Linked DNA regions of Homo sapiens. The protein of the gene in region 4 purifies or fractionates together with the protein of the main gene of each other region. This does not show direct contact. Each region holds a gene or a part of one and is shown on either strand. Other genes may lie near its edges. The genes, in order: RANGAP1, NAV1, RGPD8 and RCC1.

Region 1 (7,466 bases), on a different chromosome or scaffold from region 4:
ATGACACATTTAGTATGTGATTTAAAAAAAAAAGGGGGGGGTTGGGGGGCCGGGAGTGGTGGTTCACGGCTGTAATCTCAGCACTTTGGGAGACCGAGGCAGGTGGATCACGAGGTCAGGAGTTCAAGACCAGCCAGGCCAACATGGTGAAACCCCGTCTCTACTAAAAATACAAAAATTAGCTGGGCGTGGTGGCACACGCCTTTAGTCCCAGCTACTCGGGAGGTTGAGGCAGGAGAATTGCTTGAACCCGGGAGGCGGAGGTTGCAGTGAGCCAAGATCGCGCCATTGCATTCCAGCCTGGCGACAGAGCAAGACTCCAACTCAAAACAAACAAATAACAACAACAACAACAAAAAGGCATTAACAACAACAACAAAAAGGCATTATTAGGAAATAGTTAAATAAAGATATCAGGGATTGGGCCATGCACACATCTGGGGGAACATGATTCCTGCAAAGGGAATAGCAAATGCAATGGCTCTTGTAGGGGCAGAGGGTTGGAGAAACTGCAACAGGGCCAGTGGGGCTGAAGCACAGAGAGAGAGGAAAAAAACAAGGTAAGAGAAGAGACAGTTAACAAGGGGCCCAAGTCATAAAGCCCATTTGAAGAACAGTGGCTTTCGCTATAAGTGACAAGGAAAACCACTGAAGTTTTTAGCAGAAAGCAGATGTCATCTGACGTACATTTTGACAGGATCACTCTACTTGCCACATAGAGCCTGGCATTTAGAAGGTGCTCAAGAAACGACCAGTTGAAATTGCATAAAAATTAACCAGGCCAGGGCCGGGCGCAAAGGCTCACACCTATAATCCTAGTACTTTGGGAGGCTGAGGTGGGCGGATCACGAGGTCAGGAGATCGAGACCATCCTGGCTAACACGGTGAAACCCGTCTCCACTAAAAATACAAAAAATTAGCCGGGCCTGGTGGCGGGGGCCTGTAGTCCCAGCTACTCGGGAGGCTGAGGCAAGAGAATGGCATGAACCCGGTAGGTGGAGCTTGCAGTGAGCTGAGATTGCGCCACTGCACTCCAGCCTGGGCAACAGAGCGAGACTCACCTCAAAAAAATAAAATAAAATAAAATAAAATAAAAATTAACCAGGCCGGGTGCGGTAGCTCACGCCTATAATCTCAGCACTTTGGGAGGCTGAGGTGGGTGGATTACCTGAGGTCGGGAGTTCGAGACCACCCTGGCCAACATGGAGAAACCCTGTCTCTACCAAAAATACAAAATTAACCGGGCGTGGTGGCACATGCCTGTAATCCCAGCTACTCAGGAGGCTGAGGCAGGAGAATCGCTTGAATCTGGGAGGCAGATGTTGGGGTGAGCTGAGATCGTGGCATTGCACTCCAACGTGGGCAACAAGAGTGAAACTCCGTCTCAAAAAAAAAAAAAATTAACCAGAGTCGGGTGTAATGGTTCACTCCTGCAATCCCAGCATTTCCGGAGGCTGAGGTGGGCGGATCGATTGAGCACAGGAGTTAGAAACCAGCCTGGGCAGTATGCCGAAACCCTGTCTCCACTAAAAATACAAAAACTAGCTGGGTGTGGTGGCAGGTGCCTGCAGTCCCAGCTACCTGGGATGTAAGGTGGGAGGATCACTTGAGCCCCGTAGGTGGAGGCTACAGTGAGCTGAGATCTTGCTGCTGTACTTCTGGAGACCCTGTTTCAAAAAATAAATTAACCAGAAACCAGCCCAGTGCAATAACTCACACCTGTAATTCCAACATTTTGGGAGGCTAGGCGGGAAGATCACTTTAGACCAGGGTTCGAGACAAGCCTGGGCAACAGAATGAGACCCTGTCTCCACAGAAAAATTTAAAAATTAGCCAGGTGTGATGGCATCTGTAGTCCCCATGACTTGGGAGGTTGAGGTGGGAGGATCGCTTGAGCCCAGGAAGCCGACGCTGCAGTTCAGCGGTGATCGTTCCACTACACTCCAGCCTGGGTGACAGAAGGAGACCGTCTCTAAAAAGATAAAAAAATTTAAAGAAAAACCAACAAAAAAATTAACCTGAAACCCCAGCATCTCTTGCAGTTCTGAGATGGGACAATTTGAGGGTAAAAGGTGGTGGTGAAGCCTCCAGATAGAATAGGGACAGAACTTCTCAGCTGAACGGGGGCCCATTCCTCAGTCCAAGAGAGAGCGAGACAGAGATGCACCCCTCCACACTCACTTTATAAACCAAGAAACTGGAGCACAGAAACGTAAATTGATTTGTCCAAGGTCAGCAAAGGATCAGCGCCAGAGCAAAAGCAAAGGGCTAATAGAGAAACATCCTCTCCCCGCTCCGCAGCAACGTCAGAGACTTTCTGAGGTGAGATGCATGCTCCTGCAAAGCGTCAGCAGTGACTCACATCGATTCCAGGGACAGCGGCGCCAGCCCGGGGCCCCCGCGGGCGTGGGCCTGCTGGGAGGTGGCTCTGCGGGAGCGACGCGCGAATACAGGCCGCAAATGATAGGCGGGCGGCGCAGGAGCCCCATCTGGAATCCCCGGCGGACTCGCACCGCCTCCGGTTGACAACAATGCTAATATGAGACGCCACTGCTAGCAGCTGCAGGCTGAGCTGCTCTGGCGAGTCAGACGCCCTTTAAGCCTCAGTTTCCCCATTTGTGAAAGGAGCCAGCGCCGCTCAACAACCCCACTCCCACCGCCACCCCTGGGGCGCTCGGCCGTCGAAGGCTAAGTGAAGAAGGCCGAGGGGGCAGGCAGAAGGCGCACACGGGCGCCACGCCCTCCTCGCCCCGCACCCCTGTTCCAGGCAGGTGACGGGGAAAGGAAAGGGACCCTGACTCTACCGTAAACAGGCGGCGCCGCCGCGTGGGGGGAATCGAGCGCGCGCCTCCGCCCTCTGGGGCGGGGACGGATTTAGGGTCCGGGTCAGGCCGGGGTCGCCACCTCCGGATCCAGCGGTCCAGATGTCCAGCCGGCTAGTCTGTTAGCTCTCTCGAGCTCCCGGCCTCACGCGCTTCCAGCACCACCTGCTCTCCGCACCGCGGCGGATGATGGCGGAGGAGGAGGATTTTGAAAGCCGGCAGTTTCTTTGCTTCGATTTGATTTGTTCGAGGCCCCGGCCGGCTTGCCCTCGCCCCGCTCGCGCGGCCTCTCGGGTAGAGTAGTCCGGTTCCCCATCTGGGAGCGCGATGGGGCGCGCACCGCGAACTACCCGTCCCATGGCGCACCGCGCGCAGAGCGTCCTCCACCGCCCTCCTCTTCGCCCTCCCCTGGTGGCTTCTGGCTCTTTCTCGCAGAGACCGCAGGGAGGTGTTCAGCCGGGAGCGCCCAGAGACTACAATTCCCAGAATGCGTTGCACCCAGGTCCCTCAGCTCTTCCGGAAAGGTTTTGTTCGCGTAACTTTGTTGATAACAGGTACTGCTGGCTGCTGGGTCTCTTGGGCAAGACACAGGTATCCATTTCCCGAAAGAAAAGACTCTTTTCCGTCCCATGAAACTGAAAGGGCATTCGAAGGCTTCCACATAAATATGCACAAATTACCTGATAATTAAAAAGGGGAAATAGTAACTATCGTAGAGAAGCTCCGCAGACACCACTTGAACGGCCACGTTAACATCAACAGCAGGACAAGCTGACATTCATCGCACGCTTTCTGTGTGATGCACTGAGAAAAACACGGCGTCACCGTCCGGTCTATAATGCATGACCTTAGTCTAATCATGAGAAACCCAAGCTGAGGGACATGGTACAGAATAACTGATCTGTACCCTTCCGGAAATGTCTGTATTATGTAAGACAAAGAAAAACTGAGGAACTGTTGCCGATTACAGGAAACGAAAAAGACAACTGAATGCAAGACATGGTCCTGGATCGGATCCTGGGTGGGGATTGCTATAAAGGACAATACTGAAACAGCAAAACTTGACTATATTAGATAATAGTATTGTATCAATGTTAAATTTATTAATTTTGATTATGGTACAGGGTTATGTAAGAGACTGCCCTTGTTCTTGGAAAAAAATGCTGAAATAATTAGGGACAAAAAGGACATGATGTCTGCAACCTTTATGGTTAAAAGAAATATACCTATACATATACATAGAGAAAGCAGAGACACAAATGTGGCAAAATGTTAATCAGTTAATCTGGTTGAAGAATATGGGAGTTCTTTGAACATTTTTGCAACTTTTCTGTAGGTGTGAATTTAAGCATAAAAACACAAACAGCGTTTTTTTTTTGTTTTTTTTTTTTGAGATGGAGTTTCACTCTTGTTGCCCATCTTGGCCTCCCAAAGTGTTGGGATTATAGGCGAGAGAGTGTGAGACCAGCCTGGGCAACATGGTCAAACCCTGTCTCGACAAAAAATACAAAAATTAGTTGGACGTGATGGTGCAAGCCTGTAGTCTCAGCTAAGGGCCTGAGGCAGGAGGATCTGGAGCCTGGGAGCTTGAGGCTGCAGTGAGCCGTGATTGCACCACTGCATTTCAGCCCTGGCGACAGAGCAAGACCTTGTCTCAAAAACTGAAAAAAGAAAAAAAAAAAAAGTTAAACAGATCATGCAGGCTGGGCGCAGTGGCTCACACCTGTAATCCCAGCACTTTGGGAGGCCGAGGCGGGCGGATCACCTGAGGTCAGGAGTTTGAGACCAGCCTGACCAAAATGGAGAAACCCCGTCTCTACTAAAAATATAAAATTAGCTGGGCATGGTGACGCATGCCTGGAATCCCAGCTACTCGGGAGGCTGAGGCAGAAGAATCGCTTGAACCCGGGAGGCGGAGGTTGCAGTGAGCCGAGACGCACCATTGCACTCCAGCCTGGGCAACAAGAGCGAAACTCCGTCTCTAAATAAATAAATAAATTAATTAATTAATTAACAGATCATGCCATATCCTTTTACACACAGCTCATTTAATCTTCACCACCACAAGGGAAGTGGGCATCATTACCACCCTTCCCAGCACAGAGATGAGAAAACTGAAGCTCTAGACAGAGTGTAACTCTCCCAGTTCTCAAAGTTCCTGAGATGTGGATCCTCTTTCCACCTTCCCTCTCCTTTTTACCTACAAGGCCCATGTCAAATGCTACTTCATGAGTCTCTCCCTCCTGCAGGTGCCCACAGCAAGATGCAAAGCCCCACAGCAGTTGGCCTGGGACTCTGGGGCTCTTTGACAGAGTTAACACTGTTCTTGGCAGTTTCCTCCTCAGCCTGGGAGGGTCTCCAGAGCAGACGCTGTATCCATCTGGGCAGTATCTTCTCTGGGCCTGGCCTGTCATAGGTGCTTCAGGTTTCCCCATTTGAACCAGATACCAGTCGGGTTACCGGATGTTTGCTTAAAATGAGTCATAGGCTTCCTGCTATTCCTGTGCTGCTTCCAGCTAGGACTGATCGAATCAGTCTGGATTTTCCTTGGGGTGATCCGCAGGCTCCCTTTTCCAATTTTACTTCTTGAGACTTTCCTTGGCCCTCACACAGAGACCTCCCAAAGGGAAGAGGAAGGTGGGCAGGGGAACATCTTAGCTGATCCCGTCCTCATCCAGCTGATAGGACATTGGGTTTTCGGAACTGGAAGGGAATTCTTAGACAACAGAAATTCAGTGGCCTTCAAGGACCTGGGAGGTAACAGGAAGTCATGGGGCTTGTCGGGGCTTGGTGGGGCTTGGGGGGAGTTAGAGAGTGGATGTTCTGCCTGAAGGTGTTCACATTCGAAGCTAAAAATCACAAACTCAGCCTGACAGCACCCCCTAGCAATCTGGATTCTGTCACTCCTATATCCTGATTTTTTTTTTTTTTTTTTTTGAGATGGAGTTTCACTCTGTTGCTCAGGCTGGAGTGCAGTGGTGCGATCTCAGCTCACTGCAACCTCCGCCTCCCAGGTTCAAGTGATTCTTCTGCCTCAGCCTCCCGAGTAGCTGGGACTACAGGTGCACGCCACCACGCCCGGCTAATTTTTGTATTTTTAGTAGAGACGGTTTCACCATATTGGCCAGGATGGTCTCAAACTCCTGACCTGGTGATCCACTTACCTCGGCCTCCCAAAGTGCTGGGAGTACAGTACAGGCGTGAGCCACTGTGGCCGGCCTCCTGAATCTATCTTAAACCTCTTTACAAATGGGGAGACTGGGGTTTGAAAAGGAACAGGGGGTTTGCCCAAGGGTGCCCAGTGAATCAGAAGAATCAAGAATCATCACTGTTTCTGGCCGGGCACAGTGGCTCATGCCTGTAATCCCAGCACTTCGGGAGGGCGAGGCAGGTGGATCATCTGACGTCAGGAATTCGAGACCAGCCTGGCCAACATGGTGAAACCCTGTCTCTACTAAAAATACAAAAAATTAGCTGGGCATGGTGGCAGACACCTGTAATCCCAGCTACTCGGGAGGCTGGGGCAGGAGAATCTCTTGAACCCAAGAGGCGGAGGTTGCAGTGAGCTGAGATCACGCCATTGCACTCCAGCCTAGGCAACAAGAGCAAAATTCTGCCTCAAAAAAAAGAATCATCACTGTTTCCAAGCAACACACTTATCTTCTCTCTTTCTCCTTCCAGCCCTTTCTCCAGCTTTCTCTCTTTCAAGTTATCACCTGAGAGCTAGTCTGCCTGGCCCAAGAAGTGTAATCATGGCCTTTGACAGATGGATAGTGTCATCCAAGACTATCTTGTTCCTTATTTCAACAAATGAAGAACTAAGGCCCAAGTTACAGTGTGACTTACACATGAGACAAGGCTGAGCATGGTGGCTCACAACCAACTGTAATGCCAGCACTGTGGGAGGCCAAGGCAGGAAGATTGCTAAAGCCCAGGATTTGAGACCAGTCTGGGCAATATAGTGAGACTCTGTCTCTACTAAAAACAATTAGCCAGGCATGGTGGTACATACTTGGAGTCCCAGCTACTAGGGAGGCTGATGCAGGAGGATCCTTGAGCCCAGAACGTGGAGGTTGGTTGCAGTGAGCCATGGTCAGGCCACTGCACTCCAGCCTGAATGATAGAACAAGACCCTGTCTCAAAGAAAAAAAAAAAAGAGAGAGAGAGAGAGAGAGAAAGAGAATAGAAGACAGGTCTCTAGGGTCCTTTTCTATTATTATTATTACTTTTTTTTTTTTTTTTTTGAGATGGAGTCTCACTCTGTCACCCAGGCTGGAGTGCAATGGCACAATCAAGGCTCACTGTAACCTCTGCCTCCCGGGTTCAAACGATTCTCCTGCCTAAGACTCCCGAGTAGCTGGGATTACAGGTTCCCACCACCATGCCCAGCTTATTTTTGCATTTTTAGTAGAGATGGGGTTTCACTGTGTTGTCCAGGCTAGTCTCAAACTCCTGACTCAGGTGATCCACCCACCTTGGCTTCCCAAAGTGCTGGGATTACAGGTGTGAGCCACCATTTCCGGCCTTCTAGGGTTGTTTTCAACATATACACTTCACTTGTGAGTGCGAGGTGAGTTTAAGGGGGAATCAGGAGAAGCAGAGAGTGTTCCAGGCCTTTCTCTGTTGTGCAGCCTTTTTTTGTTG
Region 2 (7,474 bases), about 170 Mb from region 4:
TTCTGGTCATGGCTGCAGAACTCTGTAGATTTAGAGTTGTATATTTCGAGTGGGTGAATTTTATAATATGTAAATTGTACCTCAATAAAGCTGTTGAAAAGAAATAAAGAAATGTGCTGAACTAGTACATGATCAAGCTCTCCACACTGCTATGGAGACTATCAAGACTCCTTTCCTCTGCATATATGTAGTATTTGAAAACATGGACTCAGGAGCCAGACTCCTTCAGTTCAAATCCTACCTCTATCACTTACTAGCTGAGACCCAGACAAGACACTTGACCTCAATTTCTTTACCTGTAAAGTGGAGATAAAAAGTGGTACAGATTTCATAGGGTTGTTGTGGAGATTAAATGGGTTAATATATGTTAAATGCTTAGCATAGCAGTTGGCACACAGCAAATGCTATATAAGTAGGGACTATTATTATCTTCCATACCACAGGATTGCCACAGCCAGAACCAGGCTTCTTAAAGGGGCAGGTTTTCTCCCTGCAAACCCAACCCCTATTCTCCTGGGCCCCTTAAAGAAACACCTCCTCTTCAAAGGCCATCTTTGGAAAAACACCACGATGGCTTTCAGTACATCTCACTTCCTGGTAACAGAGAGAGAGTGAGAAACAGCATCTTCCCGATAAGGCAGTGACTCGCTCACTCTCGTAAAACATTCATTACTCTGACAGCTTTTCCCCATGGACTCTTTCTCCCAGGTCCCTGTAAGCTCCAACAGTCAACACAGAGGGCCCTTCTTAAAGGGGGCCCAGGGCCAGTCATGAGGCCCGAGTGGCCAAGGATGGAGATGCCTGTTTTGCCCATGTCCAACCCCATTCCACTAGCCTAGGAAACCCCTCACTGGTTAATGAATCAAGCTAGAAAGGACAAGGATTTTTAGTGGCCAGTCAGATTTCTATCACTGAAAAATGGGTTTTCAAGCACTGAGCCCATAACCACAGTGAATTTGACTGGGGTGGGGAGGTGGGGCGGGGTTGGGAATATGAGCTGATGCTTTCTGTTTGATAATCCCACTTCTGCTTATATGTGAGCAGCACTGCAGAAACCATTTTCTCCTCCATGATCTCACTGAATACTCACCATGCCCTTGGTAGGTGGGTATTCTTGTCCTCTGGGTGTCAACACTCCCTTTTACTGATGAGCAAACTGAGGTGATGCACTTCAGCCAGCATCAGAACCAAGGCATGGAGTCAGGTCTTCTGAAGCTGGGCCCAGTGTTTTTCCACTGTGCTTCAGAGGAGGAAGTCAGAAGCTGCCTCGGACTCCTCCTTAGAAGCTCCAGTGACGCTTATTAAGTGCTCAAGAAAATAAAGCAATGTGCTATCTTCATATTCCTGCCAAGGACCTTACAAACTGCTCTGGGAGCCCCAAACAAGACAGTCCGAAGGATAAAGACAGTCTCCCTGTGGGCCACGTGGAACGCAGGAGCTGTGAGTGTGTTCAAATCCTCAAAGTCCCATGTCAGATAACCCAAGAAACAAATTAGCATTGGTCCACAGACCTCAAGGCGGCAGGAAAACAGGCAAAGCCCCCAAAGAAATCAGGCTGGGGCTGAAAATGTCACTTGCCATACTTCCTGGGGTTCCCAAAACTCTCATCTCGTCGGAGGCCGGATCTGATACTCTATGGGAGTGACAGCAAGCTTCTGGGCTGATTTTTTAAAACTTATTTGTCAGGTTGACATTAATCCTTTCGCTACCCATCTTGTCCCAAAGCAGGATTGGCTCTAAGCTGTGGAGGAGGGGAACAGAGGGGCTGTTGGGTTTTAAGGAGCCTCAGTGAGGCCAGCAGGTCCTGGAGGCCACCTTCTCGGTGGGGAGTGGGGGTACAGGTGACTATGCCAAGGGTCTCCTGCAGTGAACCTGAATCTCCCTCCTTCCATCACTCACAAATCATTTCACGCCCCAGCACCTCTCCCACTCTCTCCATCCTCCCCTCCCCACAGCGAGGTCCTTGCCTTTACCTCTTATTGATTTTCATATTTAAGGAAAATCCATTTGCTAGACTCAGAGCAACTGAGTCATCACTGTGTTCAGACAAAAACTACTCACAAAGTAGGCATTTGGCAGAGGCCACTTCTGGGATGGGCGGGACCCTGTTTCTTACCCAAACAGTGCTCTGTCCAGAGTCTCTTCTGGCTTCTCCTCCCTGCCGCTCTGTCCTATCCACTTTCTCTTTCAGTAGCTTTCATATCCTCTGCCTGTCACCCCAACCAGACTGGCCCCTTTACTCCTTCCTCCCTCAACCTGTCCATATGCTATTATGTTTGCCTACACATACAGGTTCACTGTTGGAAATCTGTGAGTGGGACATTTTTCTGAATTTTTATTTTAGATTCAGGGGGTACATATGCAGGCTTGTTACCTGGGTATATTGTGTGATGCTGAGGCTTGGGGTACAAATGATCCCGTCACCCATATTGATTGGGACATTAGGAGCAGGGTGAGGGAGAACTTGTATGAGCAGCCACTCATAAGTGGGAGAGAAATATTGATCCTGTGTACTGATAGAAGAGATCTAACCCTTACGAAATTATAGCTTTGGCTTTCTTTTCCATTCTGGGTAGCACCCAAGGAATGACATCATCCCAGCATTACCAATGTGGATGGGGGCTATGCATCCAGCCTCACAATGGGTCAAGGAGTCATTTCACCTTCTGATAGTCATTTGCATACCTACTGTGTGGTCCTTGGTCCCTGGGGTCCCACCTTTTGAGCTCTCAAGAAAGGACAGTGCTTCTTCTTAAAGGACTAGGCTCCCCTTTGCAGGACTGGGAAGAGCACAAAAGGATTCTAGCTAGCACATCATTGAATGCCAAACTGGGCGCAGAGTTACATCTCCAAGAGTTAGATCTCCAAGAGTTAGATCTCCAAGAGTTAGTTACTCCAAGATCAAAGTAACAGCTAATGTTCACTGAGCATTTACTATGTGCCAAGCACTATTCTAAGTGTGTCACCTATAGTATCGCATTTAATCCTCCCAACACTCTTAGGAGATAGGAACCATTATTATCCCATTTTACAGATAAAGAAACTGAGGTAGCTAGAGGTTAAAGAGTTCAGTAAGTTCCCATGGCTAAAAAATCATTGATCCAGGATTTGAACTCATGCAGTCTGCCTTAAGAGCCCACACTTCTAGTCTTTATACAGAGGGTAAGGGTGTCACTCTGCAGTCCACCCCCTTATCCCGCGCCAAAAGGCAGTTCACTCCCTTCATGGACAAAAATCATACAACAAATCTTTTTCCCTGATCAGTTGGGAACTTCTTGAATGTCACTGCTTGTCCATTGTCTGGTGTCTCATCTCTCCAAATTCAAAGCCACTGTGGCCTTACTGACTGTGTGGGGCGTTCAGGGAGGACTCAAGGGCTCTCATCCTGACTCTGCTCACACTGATTTTGCTGGCAAAGAGCTGTGAGACCTCCCAGGGAGTAGGCAGTTTTGCTTTCTATCCATCAGTCCTCCAACTTGCAACCCCATGGCCCTGGGAATAGATCAGTCCTCTTATTTGTTGGCAGGAGCAGGGGAATCTGCTGGGTCCTTGGCCACAGCTACTCCCTTTCCAAAGCCTGCTTCAAAGCTCAGGTCATCTGGCTTCCTTCTGCCTTCTTCCTGCAGACCCTGGAAGTCCCCAAGCCAGGAGGCAGGGGGCTTGCACTGCTTCTGCAGTAGGTTCTGGCTGAGGGCCTTCCTCCCATTCACTCTCCTCAGGTCCTGTCATTTCCTCTCTCCTCTTCTTCCCCCTCCTCCCACTCCCAAGTCCCTGGAAGAAGGAGGAGGGGCATCGGCTGTCTGGAAGGTGGGGAGAAGTCACTTATTTTACTGAGCACCTACTATTTGCGGGGCACTTGCGGGGCCTCCCCCTCCTCTAAGACAGCTCAGACAGCATGACAGTTCAGTGGGGTGGAGAAAGAAAGGAGGTGGGTGCCCGGGGTCAGAAGTCGGGTGGAGAGGCTGGCCCATCCATCTGTCCCCTTCTCCTAAAGAACTGCGGCTGAACCAGCGAGCGGTACCCGGACGACATGTGGGGGAGGGAGGAAACCCGGCCTGGAAGTGGCGGTGGCGGGTCCCCGGGCAAAGGAAAGGCTCAATTGTGCAAAGGCTTCCTGCCCTGCCAGCTCGCGGGTCCGCCACCGAGCAGCCGCCTTTCTGCGGCCAGCCTGGGAGGCGGGACGGGAAGGCGAAGGCAGCAAAGGGTTACGGGAATAGCTTTCCAATGACAAAGTCTGGAAGGGACCCATGCCTCCGCCCCTCTGCGGGTTAAACTGGCACAGTGCAGGGGGAGGAAAGCCAGGGCGATCGGACGGATTCTCTCCTCCTGCCCGCCCCCCGGCCGCCAGGCACTCCCCTCCTGGGCCCGCCGTGGAGGCAGCCGGCGTGTGCCTGGGGCAGCGGGTCACGAGGCTCCGCCCCGGCCGCCGTTCCCGAGGGGACGGCACTTTGTTCAGGATGCCGCCTCCCTCCTCATTGTGGGGCCGGGGCCGGCGGCTGCCCTAGTGCGGGGCCCGAGGCTGGAGTGCGCGGCGGACGCCAAGCCTGGTGCGAGGGGCCGAGGCGGCCTGGGGAGCCCCGGGAAACTTTGTGCTCGCGAGAAGCGGACCCCGCACCCGCGCTGCCCTTGGGGATGCGCGACTCTGCGCGGCTGCGGCGCGGACCCGGAGCCCGGGCGGGCAGGCGCTCCGGTGAGTGGCCGGCGCGGGGCGGTCGCGCGGTCGCGGCGCTGAGGGTCTGGCGCTTCCCGTTTTGCGAGGCTTGGCTGGCAGGTCCTGCGAGGCCGAGACCAAGTCTCGGGGTAGGGGAGGTTGGTGCCCGAGGGAGGCTGTGGGCTGGGCTCGGGAGAGGCGCTGGAATAAATAACAACCAAGATGCTCGCGGCTTCCCGGGAAGGTGTGTGCCCTTTCGACCCCTATGGGACTGACTGCGCGTTTGATTCTAGAGTTGACTCTCCGGGGGGGCTGCCTAACTTCAGTCCCTCTGAGCCTCAGTTTCCTTGTTGTGAAATACCCACAATTTAAAGTGCGTTGAGATCTTATCATGAGACACCAGGTGCTGCGTTCTTATACTCGCACCCACACGGCAAGCACACACCCTACCCGCACCTCTGCCTTTCGTTGAAGCAAGAGTTAACTCCTCCCATCCCAGCAGGAGCCAGAGGAACAGCTGGGGCAGGTGACCTCGCGGGCCGTTCCAGAAAACGTTCCCCGCACCCCCGGGATGCGCCGGGAAGCGCCCTCCCGCCAATCTCCCGGAGGCCGTCCTCTCTGGCGCCCGCCCAGTGCGTCTGGGAGCGGAGAAAGTGGTCCCGGAGGAGAGGGGAGAGAGGAGAACGCAGAAATTGGGTGATCACGGGGAGCTCACCTGAGCGCTCCCGAGGCTTGGGCTCTGGTCCCTGCTAATCCCCAGAGCCGATAAAAACTGGTCATAGGATAAAGAAGCAGCTAAGTTTGCAGCGGGCAGAGGGGAGGCAGGAACTGGAGAGGACGCGAGTGGCGGGTGGCGGGGGCGGTGTGTAGGGGTGACGTCCACCCGGCAGAGAGGGTTCCTTGTCCCCTGGAGCCGAACACAGGAAAATCAGCTGGTGAGTCAATGGGACTTTGTTAGGATAGTCACAGGGCGCAGCTGGCGCCGGCTTAAGGGAAGAGCTGGATCCCCCCTTGATAACATGCTGTTTATCTGGCTTCCTGTTTCAATGATTGGGATACCATTGGCTCGTTCAAATTCAATGCTGAGAAGCCTGTGGGCACGTTCGTTCACTGTGCAAAAGCAGAGGGCTTGCCTGGGTTTTCATCTGTGGGCTAGCTCTTGTTCCCCCTACATGAAGTCCCCGGCAACTCACTTGTAATGGGACTGGAGACTTCGCAAAAAGAATGGCCTCCCCAGGAGGAGGATCTGACGATCTGACACTGCAGAGACCTTGGCTTCCTTTAGGCCAGAGATATATATGATTCCAGCTTGCTTATGACATTTTTTTAAATCCTGCTTTGACTTTTTGTTGGTGTGTCTTTGGGATTGACCTAAGAAGGGAGACAGAGGGAACAGCTCTATGGATTTTGTCTTCTAAGATGAGCTTCCTAGTAGTATGTGCTTTCACCATCAGTTTTTAGGGGAAGTTTTCAATCATCAGTTTGTAGTTCTCTATCTGGCTGTGTTGCTAACCACCTGGATGATCAGAGAGCAAATAATTCCTCATGTCTCTGTCCTGGTTTTCACTTCTGTAAAGTGGAGCCAGGAAAAAATCGCTACGGTTGGAAGAATAAAGAAGGTTTTTCAGATTTGGGCTCCAGCCCCTAGGGTCTATTTCCTGAACTTTCCAGGTGAAAGAGAACACCAGGTGAAAGAGAACACCATTTCCGGGTGAAAGAGAACAGCCCCTGATCTGAACTTCTTCAGCAGTTTATCTGATTTCCCTTGGGGCAGGTCTCACATTCTGCTTTGCATTTTTTGTTTTTGTTGATTGTCAGTGTGCCATGCTTTGTATTTTAGATATTTGGGTGTTTGTGCACATGCCTATCTTCCTGTGAGTACCTTCCAGCCAAACACCCTATCTGACCACCCACAACACTCAGCACACAGTAGGCACTTTATAGATGCTTGCCAAACTAATAGAATTGGGGAGAAAAACTAAGTAGCATTCAAAGGCCTCCTATCTCATTTAAGTGCCATTTATTCATTCTTTGGGAGTTAATTTGCTCCCCCAGACCCCCTCTACTTCTTTTTCCCTCAAAAGCAGTTCATAAAAATGTTGATTTGCCCATGGGTAAGTAGGCAAGCTTTGAATATTTGGGCTTTTTCTGGGATCTGGCTTCTTTGATAAACCTTGGCCTGGGGAAACTGAAAACAAGAATGCTGTTTTGGCCAGGTGCGGTGGCTCATGCCCGTAAGAGGGGCGGATCACCTGAGGTCAGGAGTTCGAGACCAGCCTGGACAACGTGGTGAAACCCTGTCTCAACTAGAAATATGAAAATTAGCCGGGTGTGGTGGCAGGTGCCTGTAATCCCAGCTACTCGTGAGGCTGAGACAGGAGAATTGCTTGAACCCGGGAGGCAGAGGTTGCAGTAAGCCGAGATCATGCCATTGCACTCCAGCCTGGGGGCCAAGAGTGAAACTCCATCTTTTTTTTAAAGGAGTGCTGTTTTTCCTTTCTTGCCTAATCTAGCCCCCTCCTGAGTCCCTGTGAACCTCTGGTATCAACTCAGTTTGGGCCCAGTAGAAAGGAGTGGCCTAGAATAGAAAAATCTCCTATCCATCTTTTACAATTTGTCTCTATTTTTGCCTTCCTATTTCCAATCAGTGTCACTTCCCTCTTCTTTTAAAGTTCTTTTGACTTCTTGAAGGGTTTGGCCTTTAAGAAAAACCAGAATGTCAAAGTTAAAAGGATCTCCACTCCTCCCAACCCCTGCTCTTCTCCCCTTTACAGGCAAGAATCAAGGCCCACTGAAGGGAAGGGATGGGCTCAGAGCTACACA
Region 3 (7,020 bases), on a different chromosome or scaffold from region 4:
GCAGAGGTTACAGTGAGCAAAGATGGAGCCAGCTGCTGCACTCCAGCCGGAGCAAGAGAGACAGATACTGCCTAAAAAAAAAAAAAAGCCTGCCTCCCTCTTAATTTCCTGCTTTAATCCACTCCCAGCCAGGAAATCAGAATCACCAAGCTTCTTATCCCTAGGATAGAGCCTTACAGCATCACATATTGTGTCAATTAAAGATCTTTTATACAAGCTATTCTCCTGCCTTACAATTACAGTTTAGTTTTTTATTCATTGCTATTTTCCATCTGATTAAGGTATCAGATATCTAACCAAAAACAAATTAAGATATAGGCATGGTCCTCTTTTACTCCAACAGAAGACAATTTTTAGAAAAAGTGTTTTAAGCCAAACAATTTCTTGCCCTTGGTATAAAGCAGCAGCATGCAGAAAACACTAATTGCAGTTTCAATCTCAATGGAATCTAGGCTGGTCCTTAGCATCAGTCTGAGTGATAAATCCCTTATTCCAGAATACACTTAGGAAGAACTACTAAGAACATATTTTTACCTATTTCAAAGAAGAAAATGAGAAAAGGCATTGATTTTAAAAAAAAGAATACATGTTACGGTTTGTACTTACTTTTTAGCAAGATCATATTCTTTAGCTTCATAATACAGCTTTGCAAAATAGAATCCTTTCATTGACTTCTAAAAAAAAATTAAAAGTTGTTTTATGTTTCATACAGAAATATTTTCCAACATTTTTTCAAAAGTAGTTAAAGCCTGACAAATGCATAATTCCATGTTTTATAATTTCCTACCACAAAACAAAAAATAGAGCTGGGTGCAGCGGCTCATGCCTGTAATCCCAGCACTTTGGGAGGCCGAAGTGGGCGGATCACCTGAGGTCAGGAGTTTGAGACCAGCCTGGCTAACATGGTGAAACCCCGTCTCTACAAAAATAGAAAAATTAGCCAGGCATGATGGCGGGTGCCTGTAATCCCAGCTACTCAGGAGGCTAAGGCACAAAAATCAGTTGAACCCAGGAGGTGGAGGTTGCAGTGAGCCAGAGGTTGCAGTCAGCTGAGATCGTGCCATTGCACTCCAGCCTGGGCGACAGAGACTCCATCTCCCAAACATCATCATCATCATCATCATCATCATCATCATAAATAAGCTGGGTGCAGTTGGTCACACCTTTAATTCTATTTAATTCTAGCACTTTCAGAGACCAAGGTGGGAGGCTAGCTTTGAGGCCAAGAGTTTGAAACCAGCCTGTGCAACACAACAAGATCCTGTCTCCAGGGGGAAAAAAATAGCCAGGCATAGTGGAGCATGCCTGTGTTCCTAGCTACTCAGGAGGCCAAGGAAGGAGAATCACTTGAGCCCAGGAGGTTGACACTGCCGTGAGTTATGACTGTGACACTGCACTCCAGCCTGGGTGACACAGGGAGATCCTCTCTCTAAATAATAAATACATAACATACAAAAAATAAATTCAAGAAAGCAAGACAAGCAGACAACAGAAGTTAAGAATTTTCATCAGCCTTGGAAATCTCGGAAACCCTGTGGTACCACTCTCTCACTTAACAAACAAAAGAAACCAGCTTTCTTTGGGGAGGAAAGGTATTCCAGAAATCTCTTCTCCTACCATGTGTAAGCCTCTATGGGAAAGAATAAATAAGTACTTAGGATCTATTAAGGCACTGAGGATTCCCGGGTCCATGTACTGTTCTCTCTACAGATCAGATCAGTATTTTACAGTCAAGGAGTCAAAAAGGCAGAAATAAATATTGAATTCTTCAAGTAATAAACGAGGTCCACAGCCTGGATCCTTGGTTACATAAACTCCAAAGTCCAAAATGCTGATGCACACCAGGCTGGGTGCGGTGGCTCACACCTGTAATCCCAGCACTTTCGGAGACTGAGGCGGGTGGATCACTTGAAGCCAAGAGTTCGAGACCAGCCTGGCCAACATACAGAAACCTCCTTTCTACTAAAAATACAAAAATTAGCTGGGCATGGTGGCACACGCCTGTAATCCCCGCTGCTTGGGAGGCTGAGGCAAAGAATCACTTGAACCCGGGAGGCAGAGGCTGCAGTGGGCCAAGATCGCACCACTGAACTCCAACCTGGGCAACAGAATGATTCCATCTCAAAAAAAAAAAAAAAAAAATGCTGATACAACCAGAGTATGTTCCATCCATGTGATAGAGTATACAGCTACTCAAACATCTTATTTTTGAAATTCCAAGACCCCAGTGAATGTCCAAAACGATGAATAGTACCAAACCAGGTTGCCATCAATCGAAACATGTTTCCTGTTTGTGTCCTCCACCCACAAATTTAATGTCTTGTCCATCTCAACTAAGCACTTATCACACACTGTGGCTGTAACTTTTGCAGTTTGGGGTGTCACAACAAAACTAGCACAAATTTCTTTTTCCTTCTTCACAATTTCATGGACAAAAGATTTGTTCTTACCATAGATCTCAGCAACCCCAGTATATGATCTTTTTTCTTTCCTAAGTCAAAAACTCACCTCTTCACTTAAAGGAAGCACTATATGGCTTCTCTCTGGCATATGTGAACTGCCAGCATCGCTATTCTTGCTCTTTGGTGCCATTTTAAATAAAATAAAGGTCACTTGAACACAAGCACTGCAATACTCCAACAACTGATCTGATAACTGAGGTGGCTAGTATGTAACTAGCGGGTGGGGAGCACATACAGCATGAATATGTTGGACAAAGGGATGATTCGTGTCCTGGGTAGGACGGAGCAGGAGGCCGTGAGATTTTTATCATGTTATTCAGACCTGTTTGCAATTTAAAACTCATGAAATGTTTATTTATATAATCTTCCATTCAATATTTTTGGACCACGGGTGACGCAGGTAAGTAAAACCACGTAAGGCAATACTGTGGATAAGAAGGGACTACTGTACCAGCAACGAACAATCAGAAAATGAAATTAAGAAAGCAATTCCATTTACAATCGCATCTAAAAGAAAAAAATGCCTGGGAATAAATGTAAACAAGGAGGTGAGAGACTTGTATGCTTAAATTACAAAACCTTGCTCAATGCCAGGCTAACACCTGCAATCCCAGCACTGGCGACAGAGCAAGACTCCGTCTCAAAAAAAAAAAGAACTATAGCAATCTTAACAAAAATAATACACAACAGTCAGGACAGCACATAAAGGAACAAGTCCTGTTCCCCCCTTCCTTTTTTTTTTTTTTTTTGAGATGGAGTCTTGCTCTGTCGCCAGGCTGGAGTGCGGTGGCTCGATCTCAGCTCACTGCAACCTCTGCGTCCCGGGTACAAGCTGGGACTACAGGCGCACGCCACCATGCCCAGCTAATTTTTGTATTTTCAGTAGAGATGGGGTTTCACCATGTTGGCCAAGATGGTGTCGATCTCTCGACCTTGTGATCTGACTTCTTCCGCCTCCCAAAGTGCTGGGATTACAGGCATCAGCCACCGAGCCCGGCCAGTTCCCCCTTTTCAAAATGAAGAAATAGATTCAAGGTACAATGCCAAAACATAATAGAAAAATAATTCCATTACCTTCTTTGCTTCCAACTATGTTAAAACATAATAGAAAAATAATTCCATTACCTTCTTTGCTTCCAACTATGTTATTAAAGTAGACAATCTTAAGATAATTAAACAACTTTACAAATTATTCTTCTATATGATCTTTTGCCTCTAACCTGCTCACTTTACAAGGGAACTGAAGCTCAAGCAGACAAATGCCTTGTTTAAAGATATACAGCTAGAAAGGAGCACAGCCCATGTTATGTAAACAGGACAATATCTGATGCAAGCAGTACTTCTTTACATGACAGCAGATGTCACTATAAGCAAATACCTGAATTCACTTAAGCTGCCAAATATCAAGAACTGATGCAGGGCTGAAAACAGGAACAGTAAGACCCTAAGAGATGCCACATCATCGCTATCTTGCACAGTAAGATAGAGATGTAATTGTAATTGTCCAAAACTTAATATTTGTGGCCTACTTTTTCATTATGCAGTTCTAAATTTCTCTCTTTTTTTTTTAATTCAAACGGAGTCTCACCCTGTCGCCCATCTTGCACAGTCAAATGAATCTCCCTCCCCCTAAAATCCTCCAAAAAAGCTGCTGTTCTCAACAAACCCATCTGATCAGCTCCAAATCTGTGGAGTCCCAACAAGGGTGAAGGCCGTGATTATACAGGACAATGAGGAAAAGTCTAGATACTGAACCATGAGTTCCCCAATCTTCTTCCCCTGGAACATAAGGGTAAGGAAATCTCTCAAAAGGCAGAACAAACAAAAGAGGAGAATAAGAGAAAAATTAGAGAAACTCCAGCTTTCAGGTAAACATCATTAAAAAAAAGGGTAAGAAATGGTCAAAGAAATAATACAAGAAATGCTACAGAACTGAAAGAAATGAGTTTCCCAATTGAAAGGACACTTCCAGAAAACCTTTAAGTTACCAAGAACAAGAATCTCATGGGACTCCTAACAACAGAACTTCTAGAAAATGGAGCAATGCTTTCAAAATTGCAAAAAAAATTATTTGAAACTCAGAATTCGATAACCAAATGATCAACTAAATTAAGTAAAGATGTTTTAAAGACATACCATTAGTTTCTAGACCAGCCTGACCAGTATGGTGAAATCCCATCTCTACTAAAAATAGAAAAAATTAGCCGGGCATGGTGGCGCACACCTGTAATCCCGCTACTCGGGAGGCTGAGGCAGGAGAATCACTTGAACCTGGGAGGCGGAGGTTGCGGTGAGCTGAGACCATGCCACTGCACTCCAGCCTGGGCAACAGAGCAAGACTCTGTCCCATAACAAAAACAAACAAAAAAACCTCTCATCCACTTTTCCTCAAAGCAAGTGAGACTATGCTACACCAAAACAAAGAAAGTAAATGAAGAGGACATGAGATACAAGAAACAAAGGGTCTAACTCAGAAAAAAGATGAAGGGAATTCTCAAACTGGTGATAAAGGGAAGTCCCAAGAGCACAGCTGTGTAGCAAAGAGGAAGAAAAACCAATCCGGGTTGGAGAAGTTGGTTAGTAAGGGTATTCCAGGTAGACAGACAATCAATCAATCAATCAATGTTTTAAGCTGAAATTGATGGGATTATGTGACCAGTTTGACCACATTTGAGGGTTTAAATTGCTGAGTTTAAGTAAGCAAGTAGTAACACAACATACAAGCAAACCAAAAAATAAAGCAATTATTCAGTCCAGGAAAACGTGGGTGCAGCACACCAGCATGGCACATGTATACATATGTAACTAACCTGCACAATGTGCACATGTACCCTAAAACTTAAAGTATAATAAAAAAAACAACAAAAAACTGCACAACAAGGGCAATTCAAATGCAAAAATATTTACCTTCTATTTATATAAATGTTAACTATTCATTTAAACAAAAACTGCAGTAACAGTACTGAAAGAATGAGGGGCAAACCAAAGTGTCTGAGGACAGTTTTGGAGGAGCATAATAGCCAGTACAGAATGTCTAAAATGGGGCCGGGCGCGGTGGCTCACGCCTGTAATCCCAGCACTTTGGGAGGCTGAGGCGGGCGGATCATGAGGTCAGGAGATTGAGACTATCCTGGCTAACACGGTGAAACTCCGTCTCTACTAAAAATGCTAAAAAATTAGCCGAGTGTTGTGGCGGGTGCCTGTAGTCCCAGCTACAGGCTGGGGCAGGAGAATGGCGTGAACCCCGGAGGCAGAGTTTGCAGTGAGCCGAGATCGCGACACTGCACTCCAGCCTGGACGATAGAGCCAGACTCCGTCTCAAAAAAAAAAAAAAAAAAAAAAGAAAAGAAAAGAAAATGTCTAAAATGGGAGAAAGGGAATTAAAAATAACAAAAGTATATATGTGTGTTACTCAGAAGTATGAAGTATAGATGTAAAGGGCAGAAAAAACAACTAACAGCTGTCAAAGGTGCCTGCCTGTAGTCCTAAGTACTCAGGAAACAGAGGTAGGAGGATCATTTACGCCCAAAAATTTGATGAGCAACACAGCAAGACCCTATTCTAAAAAACAAATAAATAAAAATAAGAGCTGTCAAGTAGACTTTGAGAAGTAGGAATCAGCTGCAGAATAAGAAATCGACTTGACAGAACATAGAAAAACTAAACAGAAGCCATCGGGAAAAAGAAAAACTAGAGAAAGAATTATATTTTTTTCCTTTTTTCTTTTTTGGAGACAGAGTCTCGCTCTGTCACACAGGCTGGAGTGCAGTGGCGCAATCTCTGCTCACCACAACCTCTGCCTCCAGGGTTCAAGCAATTCTCCTGTCTCAGCCTACCGAGTAGGTGGGACTACAGGCGCTGCCACCACGCCCGGCTCATTTTTGTATTTTTAATAGAGACAGATTTTCACCATATTGGTCAGGCTGGTCTCTCGGCCTCCCAAAGTGCTCGGATTACAGACGAAGAATATTTTTAAGAAGGGCAAAAGCACATGTGAGGGAGTAGAAAAATGGCAAAACAAGAGAAGACTAACAAATGAAAGCACAATGGAAGACTAGAAAGATATGATATACAGACGCATCATCACACACCAAAACTCCGACATTCTAGAAGGCATGGGCAGTTCACAGATGGCCAGCCTCTGCCAAACTGGGGGAGAATACTAACCTCTTCATATTCTTCACAGCCACTGCCTCTTCTCCCTCCATTCTTTACCTTCTATCCAAAGCACCCTGTTTTGTCATTTCACTCAAACCTAACTTTACAGAATAGCTTCACATGTTCCAGTTACTCACTAGTTAATCCATATTCCGCTGAAATCCCCAGGTTCTAATGTAAATGACTTTAAATTTGGGGGGGAAAAAAAGACTCTAAGTGTAAGAGAGGTGGTCATAATAACCAATCGTCAAAATGTTGCTACCACTCCACTTTATTTAATGGAGAAGTTATGTAGTTGAAAGAACATTCTGACTTCTGTCTAGACCAGTGGTTTTTAATCTTTTGGAAGCCAAGGTCCCCACTAAGAATCTCAGAAAGGCTCTAAGGTTGCTTTTTTTTT
Region 4 (7,704 bases):
GTTAAATTGTCTCCAGAAAGCTGTTTTGAAGATGAAGATTGCCCAGTGTTTGCCAAAACAATGAATGAATTTTGGGTCTCTGTGGATTTATATAACTGTACCCCAGGAAAAGGCAGGTCCAGCCCGGTGCAGTGATGCACACCTGTAGTCCCAGCAGCTTGGGAAGCTGAGGTGGAAGGATCAGTTGAGCCCAGGAGTTCAATACCAGCCTGGGCAACATAGACCTTGTCTCTTGAAAAAAGAGGAGCAGGTCCAATGGACACTGAATAGGCAAAGGATGAAATAATAAGCATAAAAAGATGACAATGTGCAACAAAGAAAATCCTATCCTTGAAGCCAAAATACAGCCAGCACCACTGTTTCAACGTTCTATTCCATTTCAGCCCTAGGAGGCATGAAGGGAAAACCAGGAATGACCAGCAACCCAGACCTCTTGCTCCATCTGTCATTTTGTGTGGATATTGTTAATTTCTTCCCCAAAGAATTTTGCCTCCTATGTAGAGCATAGAGGTCATCTGACAGGAACAAACAGCTTTAATGTTCCTTCATTTGGCACTGAGGACACACAGTCCTCAGTGAGGATTGTGGGAGGGGGAGCATTAAATAAATTATTTAATGCTTACCTCCTTCCTACCCTCACCCGCAACAAAGACACAATCTTCCCGTGACCCCAATTTCTCTTCAATCTATTACCCTCTCTCCTGCTTTTCCTATACTCCCTTCACACAATCTATTCCAATGTTAAACAACCCAAGTTCTCAGGCCAGGCAGCTGGGCTAAATGATTGACAGAGGAAGAACTAGTGATGGAGATGTAAACTGAACAGGCTTCTTGGCCTTGCTTCATAACCTCTGGTCTGTGCACATTGTTTTCCCTACCTAAGGCCATATTCACTCAGCTCATTAAAATCTAAACGAAATCCAAACCAATATGGCTTTCCTGTGGTCACCAGGGATTTCTCAGCCTTCGGTTATTGCACTTGGCTGCTTTGCAACATTTGGTGCTTTGGACAATGTTCTAGTCCTCAAAACTCTTCTTCCTTGGCTTCTGAGGCACCGCTGTCTTCTGGTTCTCCTTCCCTGACTGACCTTTCTCTGTGCTGCTGGCTTCTTCCTCGAACACCATTTAAATGCTGGGTTTTCGGCCAGGTGCGATGGTTCACGCCTGTAATCCCAGTACTTTGGGAGGCCGAGGCAGGTGGTTCACCTGAGGTCAGGAGTTCGAGACCAACCTGGCCAACATGGTGAAACCCCATCTCTACTAAAACTACAAAAAAATTAGCTGGGTGTGGTGGCATGTGCCTGTAGTCCCAGGTACTTGGGAGGCTGAGGCACGAGAATTGCTTGAACCCGGGAGGCAGAGGTTGCAGTGAGCCAAGATCACAACACTGCACTCCAGCCTGGGTGACAAGAGTGAGACTCCATCCAAAAATAAATGAATAAAATAAAATAAATGAATGCTGTGTTTTACCGGGTGTGGTGGCTCATGCCTGTGATCCCAGCACTTTCGGAGGCCAAGATTGGCAGATCGCTTCAGGCCAGGAGTTCAAGACCAGCCCGGGCAGTATAGTGAGAGGCCATCTCTACCAAAAATTTAAAAAATTAGCTGAGCATGGTGGTGCATGCCTCTAGTTCCCGTTACTCAGAAGAGGCTGAGGTGAGAGAATCGTTTCAGCCCTGGTGGTCCAGGCTGCAGTAGTCCTGATCACACCACTGCATTCCAACCTCAACAACAGAGCGAGATCTTGTCTCAAAATAAAATAAATGCTGGGGTTTCATGTCTTCCCATCACTCTCCTCATTCTTCCAAGACGACTTTAGCCACCATGCTAATTCTTACAACTTCTAAATATTTTATCACCAACTCAGATTTCTTACAGGAAGCCCAACCCCATATATCTAATTGCTCTTTGGACTTATATACAACCAGATGTTACTCAGGTAACTCGTATATACTCCAATGTGGACATTACTCCTCCCCCACTGCCTGCATTTCCACTTATCAAGGTTAGAGACCATAGTATGTTCAGCCTCCTAAGCCTGAAACTCTGGTATCCTCAAGTTCTTCTCTTACCTTGCAATTCCAGTGGGACGACAAACCCTACATCAGAAATGTCTTTTTTTTTTTTTTTTTTTTTTTTTTTTGAGATAGGTTCTTGCTCTGTTGCCCAGGCTGGAGTGCAGTGGCATGATCACGACTCACTGCAGCCTCCATCTCCTGGGCTCAGGTGATCCTCACACCTCATAAGTAGCTAGGATTACAGGAATGTGCCACTACACTCAGCTAACATTTTTTTTAAAATTTTGTAGGCCGGGGTCGGGCGCAGTGGCTCAAGCCTGTAATCCCAGCACTTTGGGAGGCCGAGGCAGGTGGATCATGAGGTCAGGGGTTCAAGACCAGCCTGACCAACATGCTGAAAACCCGTCTCTACTAAAAATACAAAAATTAGCTGGGCATGGTGGCGGGCGCCTGTAATCCCAGCTACTCAGGAGGCTGAGGCAGGAGAATTGCTTGAACCTGAGAGGCGGAGGTTGCAGTGAGCCGAGATCGCACCACTACACTCCAGCCTGGGGGACAGAGTGAGACTTCATCTAAAAAAAAAAAAAAATTTGTAGGCCGGGCACGGTGGCTCATGCCTGTAATCCCAGCACTTTGGGAGGTCAAGGCGGGCAGATCACGTGGTCAGGAGTTCAAGACCACCCTGGCCAATATGGTGAAACCCCGTCTCTACTGAAAATACAAAAATTGGTGGGGCATGGTGACACTTGCTTGCAGTCCCAGCTACTCGGGAGGCTGAGGCAGGAGAATTGCTTGAACCCAGGAGGCAGAGAATGCAGTGAGCCAAGATCGAGCCACTGCACTCCAGCCTGGGCAACAGAGCAAGACTCCATCTCAAAAAAAAAAAAAAAAAGAATTGCTGCGATAGTAAATAATGTACGTAATAAAGCATTCAGAACAAAATCTAATATGTAGGAGGAACACCATAAACGTTACTACTCAAGATAGCCCAGCTGTGATAGCTCTGTCTCTCTAGCCAACGTTTTTCCACCTTACACCACACTAAAAATTCCATCATATTTGCAACATTTCTTATGTATATATATCGTAAGCATTCTTTACTTGCCTACTTCATATTCAGAGGGTTTTGTGTGTGGTAAAATATACATAAAACTTGCCATTTTTAACTAGTTTAAAATGTATAGGGGGCCAGGTGTGGTGGCTCAGGCCTGTAATCCCAGTACTTTGGGAGGCCAAGGCGGGCATCACTTGAGGTGAGGAGTTCGAGAGCAGCCTGGCCAACATGGTGAAACCCGGTCTCTACTAAAAATACAAAAATTAGCCGGGCATGGTGGCATGCCTATAGTCCCAGCTACTCGGGAGGCTGAGGCAGGAGAACTGGTTGAACCTGGGAGGTGGAGGTTGCAGTGAGCCGAGATCACACCACTTCCTTCCAGCCTGGGCGACAGAGCGAGACTCCGTCTCAAAAAAAAAAAAAAAAAAAAAGTCCAGGTGCGCTGGCTCATGCCTGTAATCTCAGCACTTTGGAGGCCGAGGCGGGTGGATTGCTTGAGGTCAGGAGTTCGAGACCAGCCTGGCCAAGATGGTGAAACCCCGTCTTGCTAAAAATACAAAAATTAGCCAGGCACGGTGGCGGGCGCCTGTAATCCCAGCTACTGGGGAGGCCGAGGCAGGAGAATCGCTTGAACCCGGGAGGCCGGGGTTGCAGTGAGCCGAGACCGCGCCATTCCACTCTAGCCTGGGTGACAGAGCAAAACTCCATCTCGAAAAAAAAAGAAAGAGTATAGGGCAGTGCTTTTAATTACATTCATTCACACTGTTGTGCAATGGAGTTTTTTATTTTTTATTTTTATTTATTTTTATCCGGGCCAGGCCTGGAGTTTTTAAACTTTTATCTGATTCGTCTAGGGGCACTTTCATCTTATTTACCTTCACATTTATCAAATTATTTCTTTCACAGGTGACAGAGCAGATTCAATTCCTTTTGATACTCCGTATTTCTCTATATGTATTTTTTTCATTCTGCATTCTTATTATTCCAACGTTTTACTTATTTATTTGGAGAGAGAGTTTCGCTCTGTCGACCAGGATGGAGTGCATCGGCGCGATCTCGGCTCACTGCAACCACCGCCTCCCAGGTTCAAACGATTCTCATGCTTCAGCCTCCCGAGTAGCTGGGACTGGAGGTGCGCGGCACCATGCCTGGCTTATGTTCTGTATTTTTTGTAGAGACGGGGTTTCGCCATGATGCCCAGGCCGGTCTCGAACTCCTGGCCTCAAGCGATCCGCCCCTCACGGCCTTCAGAGCTGCTGTAATCACAGGCGTGAGCCACCGCGTTCGACTCTTCCAAAAACTTTTTGGCCAGTTTATCTAAGGGCATATCCTACAGACTGAGTCCAGTGATTGCACAGAAGTAAACGTCCTCTGCAGCTACATACCTACAAACCTATTTCTGTAACGTACATTCCCCAGCAAGGTCCCGCGGGAAGGATCCACTACCGCGAGAGGCCTCCCAGCCAGGAAGGGGTGGGGCTCAATCTGCAGTAGATTCCCAGAAGCCTCAGTGAGTTTCTGATTCTCTAACTGCGCATGCTTCTGCGCACGCGCAATAGACATTCCAGGACTTCCGGGCACTTCGTAAGGTTTAAAAAGGATGCTTCGCGTTTTCTCTCTCCTTTTTGGAGACAGATTCGCAGTGGTCGCTTCTTCTCCTTGGTAAGTGTGATCCTTGGTAAGTGTGATCAGATGCTTGCCACCGGAGTTGTGGGTCTAATGCTATAGATCAGTAGCCGAGCTTCCCTAGGAAGATCATATAGTATTTTATTTATTTACTTTTTTTTTTTTTTTGAGACGGAGTCGGTTTGTCACTCAGGCTGGACTGCAGTGCTCGTTGCAACCTCCGCCTGCCGGGTTCAAGCGATTCTCGTGCCTCAGCCTCTCCAGCAGCTGGGATTACAGGCACGTGCCACCACGCCCGGCCAATTTTTGTATTCTTAGTGGAGACGGGGTTTCGCTATGTTGGTCAGGCTGGTTTTGAACTCCTGATTTCCGGTGATCCACCACCCTCGGCCTTCCAAAGTGCTGGGATTACAGGCGTGAGCCACCGCGCCTGGCCGGAAATCATGTAATTTAAAACTATATATGGGTGTCTTAGGCGGCATCGGTCCCAACTCTAAAGTACGCGTTAGACGGGCCTGGGCCAGAAGTGGGCCATGGAGACCTCGGGACCCGCAGGGCTGCCGCCCGACCCAGCGAGCCTCTGAAGGTGCACCGCCACCCCCACTGTTTATCTTACTGCCTCATAGTAGGCACATTGTCGTTCTCAATATAATTGCACACAGTTTTATTCTGGATCCTCATTTGCCTTTAAGAATTTTCTCAATTTTTCTTTTTATTTGATCGCACCACTGCAACCTCCGCCTGCTGGGCTCAAGCAATTCTCCTGCCGCAGCCTCCCGAGTAGCTGGGACTACAGGCGTGTACCACCGCGCCTGGCTTATTTTTGTATTTTTAGTAGAGACGGGATTTCACCATGTTGGCCAGGCTGGTCTCCAACGCCTGACCTTGTGGTCCGCCACGCCAGGCCGAAGATTTTCATAATTTGGAAGCATTGCGTTTCGTAATTATGCTTTCTCGTATTTTTGTGATTTGGGTCATTTTTATTTTTATATTTTTAGGATTACAGGCGTGAGCCATCGTGCCTGGCCGATTTGGGGGTAATTAACAAGTCCACGTGTTTCATTTGAATTTAGGATAGCTGGGCCTAATTGTTGTCTTTGCTTCTGCGGTACCTTCCACATAGTACTAACCGCCTATTGTAAAGTAATTAGAATAGCTGAATATGCATGTTACCAGTCTAGAAACCGATTTTTTTTTAACACCCCACTGTGGACAGGGTGGAAACTCGTTTGCTTTCTTGTTTAAGATCTGTAGTAACATGAATGGATGAAATTGTTTCCTATTGGATTCTGTAAATTTATGCGTTACACTGATTGTCCAACGTGGATACACCCGGGAGGTCACTCTCCCCGGGCTCTGTCCAAGTGGCGTAGGGGAGCATAGGGCTCTGCCCCATGATGTACAAGTCCCTTTCCACAACGTTGGAAATAAAGCTGGGCCTCGTGTCTGCGCCTGCATATTCCTACAGCTTCCCAGAGTCCTGTCGACAATTACTGGGGAGACAAACCATGCAGGAAACAGCCTTCTAGAGCACTGAATCTGGATTGAAGTCTTTTTTTTTTTTTTTTTTTTTGGAGATGGAGTCGCTCTGTTGCCCAGGCTGGAGTGCAGTGGCGCACTCCATTGCCTCTGCCTCCCGGGTTCAAGTGATTATGCTAAGTGATTCTCCTGCCTTGGCCTCCTGAGTAGCTGGGATTACAGGCCCCCGCCACCACGCCAGGCTAATTTTTGTATTTTTAGTAAAGACAGGGTTTCACCATGTTGGTCAGGCTGGTCTCAAACTCCTGACCTTGTGATCCGCCAGCCTCTGGCCTCCCAAAATGTTGGGATTACAGGCGTGAGCCACCACACCTGGCTGGATTGAAGTCTTAATACATGTTTAAGAAAAATTGGCTAAAAAGTAGCCAGGCATGATGATAGGTAGCTGGAGGAAGGAGAATCGCTGGAGCCCAGGAGTGACCTATACTCAAACCTATACTCCAGTGCCACTGTACTCCAACCCCAGGCGATAGCATGAGGCCCCTCGTTGAAAAAGTTTAGGGTTTTGCTGTACTAATAGATTAATATCTTGTTTTGCAGGATTTGTTAAGGATTCCAAGTAACTCTTATTTGGTGAGTAAATCTGCTAATTGTTTTTTGCTTATCAGCTCTTTGTCAATGATTTCTGTAATGGAAATAGGATTGAAGAGACTTTTATTCTAGTTGGTCAGGATTTACCTCTGAGGCATTTAATCATTCTCAGAGCAATAGCCAAATATCGACTTTGCTGCATTTTTGTAGGCATGTTGACATAACTTCAACATATGCTCTGTTCTGTAAAAATTGCTTTTTTTAGTCAGCTCATTAAAAGTGCAAAGTAGTAAAAGCTGCCCTAGTGAACTGTAGGAAGCCTAATTGGCTTTATCTACATGTGTAGCCTGAGCTGAGAAAGATACTAGCCCTTGAAAATACTGTGGGTGATTAGCAATATTGGATTTGTCGGTTACTCCAATTCCTCACTAATGAGCATTCCAACGTGGATACCCTGGGAGGTCACTCTCCCCAGGCTCTGTCCAAGTGGCATAGGGGAGCTTAGGGCTCTGCCCCATGATGTACAGTCCCTTTCCACAACGTTGAAGATGAAGCTGGGCCTCGTGTCTGCGCCTGCATATTCCTACAGCTTCCCAGAGTCCTGTGGACAATGACTGGGGAGACAAACCATGCAGGAAACATATCTAGTATACTAGATTTTAAGTTGAAGTAGGATCTTCAGGAGTCTAATCATTATTTCTTTTCTTTTAGGAGAGAAGACGATCTGCACTTCGCATTTTGGCATTGACATTTAATTTTAGGGTCCTTTATATAGAAGGGAGAGTAGGTAAACTGATTTTTTTTTTTAACAGGGAGGGTTTGACAATCTTTGGCAGACTTGGAGCAAAAGATTGAGGTGCATTTCATGCCTCCTTTTGAGAGTCTTGCTCTGTCGCCCAGGCTGTAGTGCAGTGGCGCAATCTTGGCTGCAACCTC

Evidence for each region.
Region 1: the proteins of RCC1 (region 4) and RANGAP1 purify together in Homo sapiens (affinity purification with mass spectrometry; 3 studies listed by BioGRID and IntAct, with this or other methods). This does not show direct contact.
Region 2: the proteins of RCC1 (region 4) and NAV1 purify together in Homo sapiens (affinity purification with mass spectrometry; 3 studies listed by BioGRID and IntAct, with this or other methods). This does not show direct contact.
Region 3: the proteins of RCC1 (region 4) and RGPD8 purify together in Homo sapiens (affinity purification with mass spectrometry; 3 studies listed by BioGRID and IntAct, with this or other methods). This does not show direct contact.

What each region holds. Positions count from the first base shown.
Region 1 is NC_000022.11:41,283,182-41,290,647, forward strand, and holds the start of RANGAP1 (ran GTPase-activating protein 1), read right to left. Parts: upstream 3,007-7,466; 5' UTR 2,805-3,006; exon of another isoform or gene 2,490-2,804; coding exon of another isoform or gene 2,363-2,489; exon of another isoform or gene 2,182-2,362; intron 1,973-2,181; exon of another isoform or gene 1,720-1,972; intron 1,662-1,719; exon of another isoform or gene 1,582-1,661; intron 602-1,581; exon of another isoform or gene 1-601. UniProt on the Homo sapiens protein: GTPase activator for RAN. Converts cytoplasmic GTP-bound RAN to GDP-bound RAN, which is essential for RAN-mediated nuclear import and export. Mediates dissociation of cargo from nuclear export complexes containing XPO1, RAN and RANBP2 after nuclear export.
Region 2 is NC_000001.11:201,534,653-201,542,126, forward strand, and holds the start of NAV1 (neuron navigator 1), read left to right. Parts: upstream 1-4,474; 5' UTR 4,475-4,690; intron 4,691-5,366; exon of another isoform or gene 5,367-5,493; intron 5,494-7,474. UniProt on the Homo sapiens protein: May be involved in neuronal migration.
Region 3 is NC_000002.12:112,423,634-112,430,653, forward strand, and holds part of RGPD8 (RANBP2-like and GRIP domain-containing protein 8), read right to left. Parts: intron 675-7,020; coding exon 607-674; intron 1-606.
Region 4 is NC_000001.11:28,501,351-28,509,054, forward strand, and holds the start of RCC1 (regulator of chromosome condensation), read left to right. Parts: upstream 1-4,692; 5' UTR 4,693-4,734; intron 4,735-4,869; exon of another isoform or gene 4,870-4,977; intron 4,978-6,014; exon of another isoform or gene 6,015-6,221; intron 6,222-6,777; 5' UTR 6,778-6,810; intron 6,811-7,207; exon of another isoform or gene 7,208-7,412; intron 7,413-7,479; 5' UTR 7,480-7,555; exon of another isoform or gene 7,556-7,704. UniProt on the Homo sapiens protein: Guanine-nucleotide releasing factor that promotes the exchange of Ran-bound GDP by GTP, and thereby plays an important role in RAN-mediated functions in nuclear import and mitosis.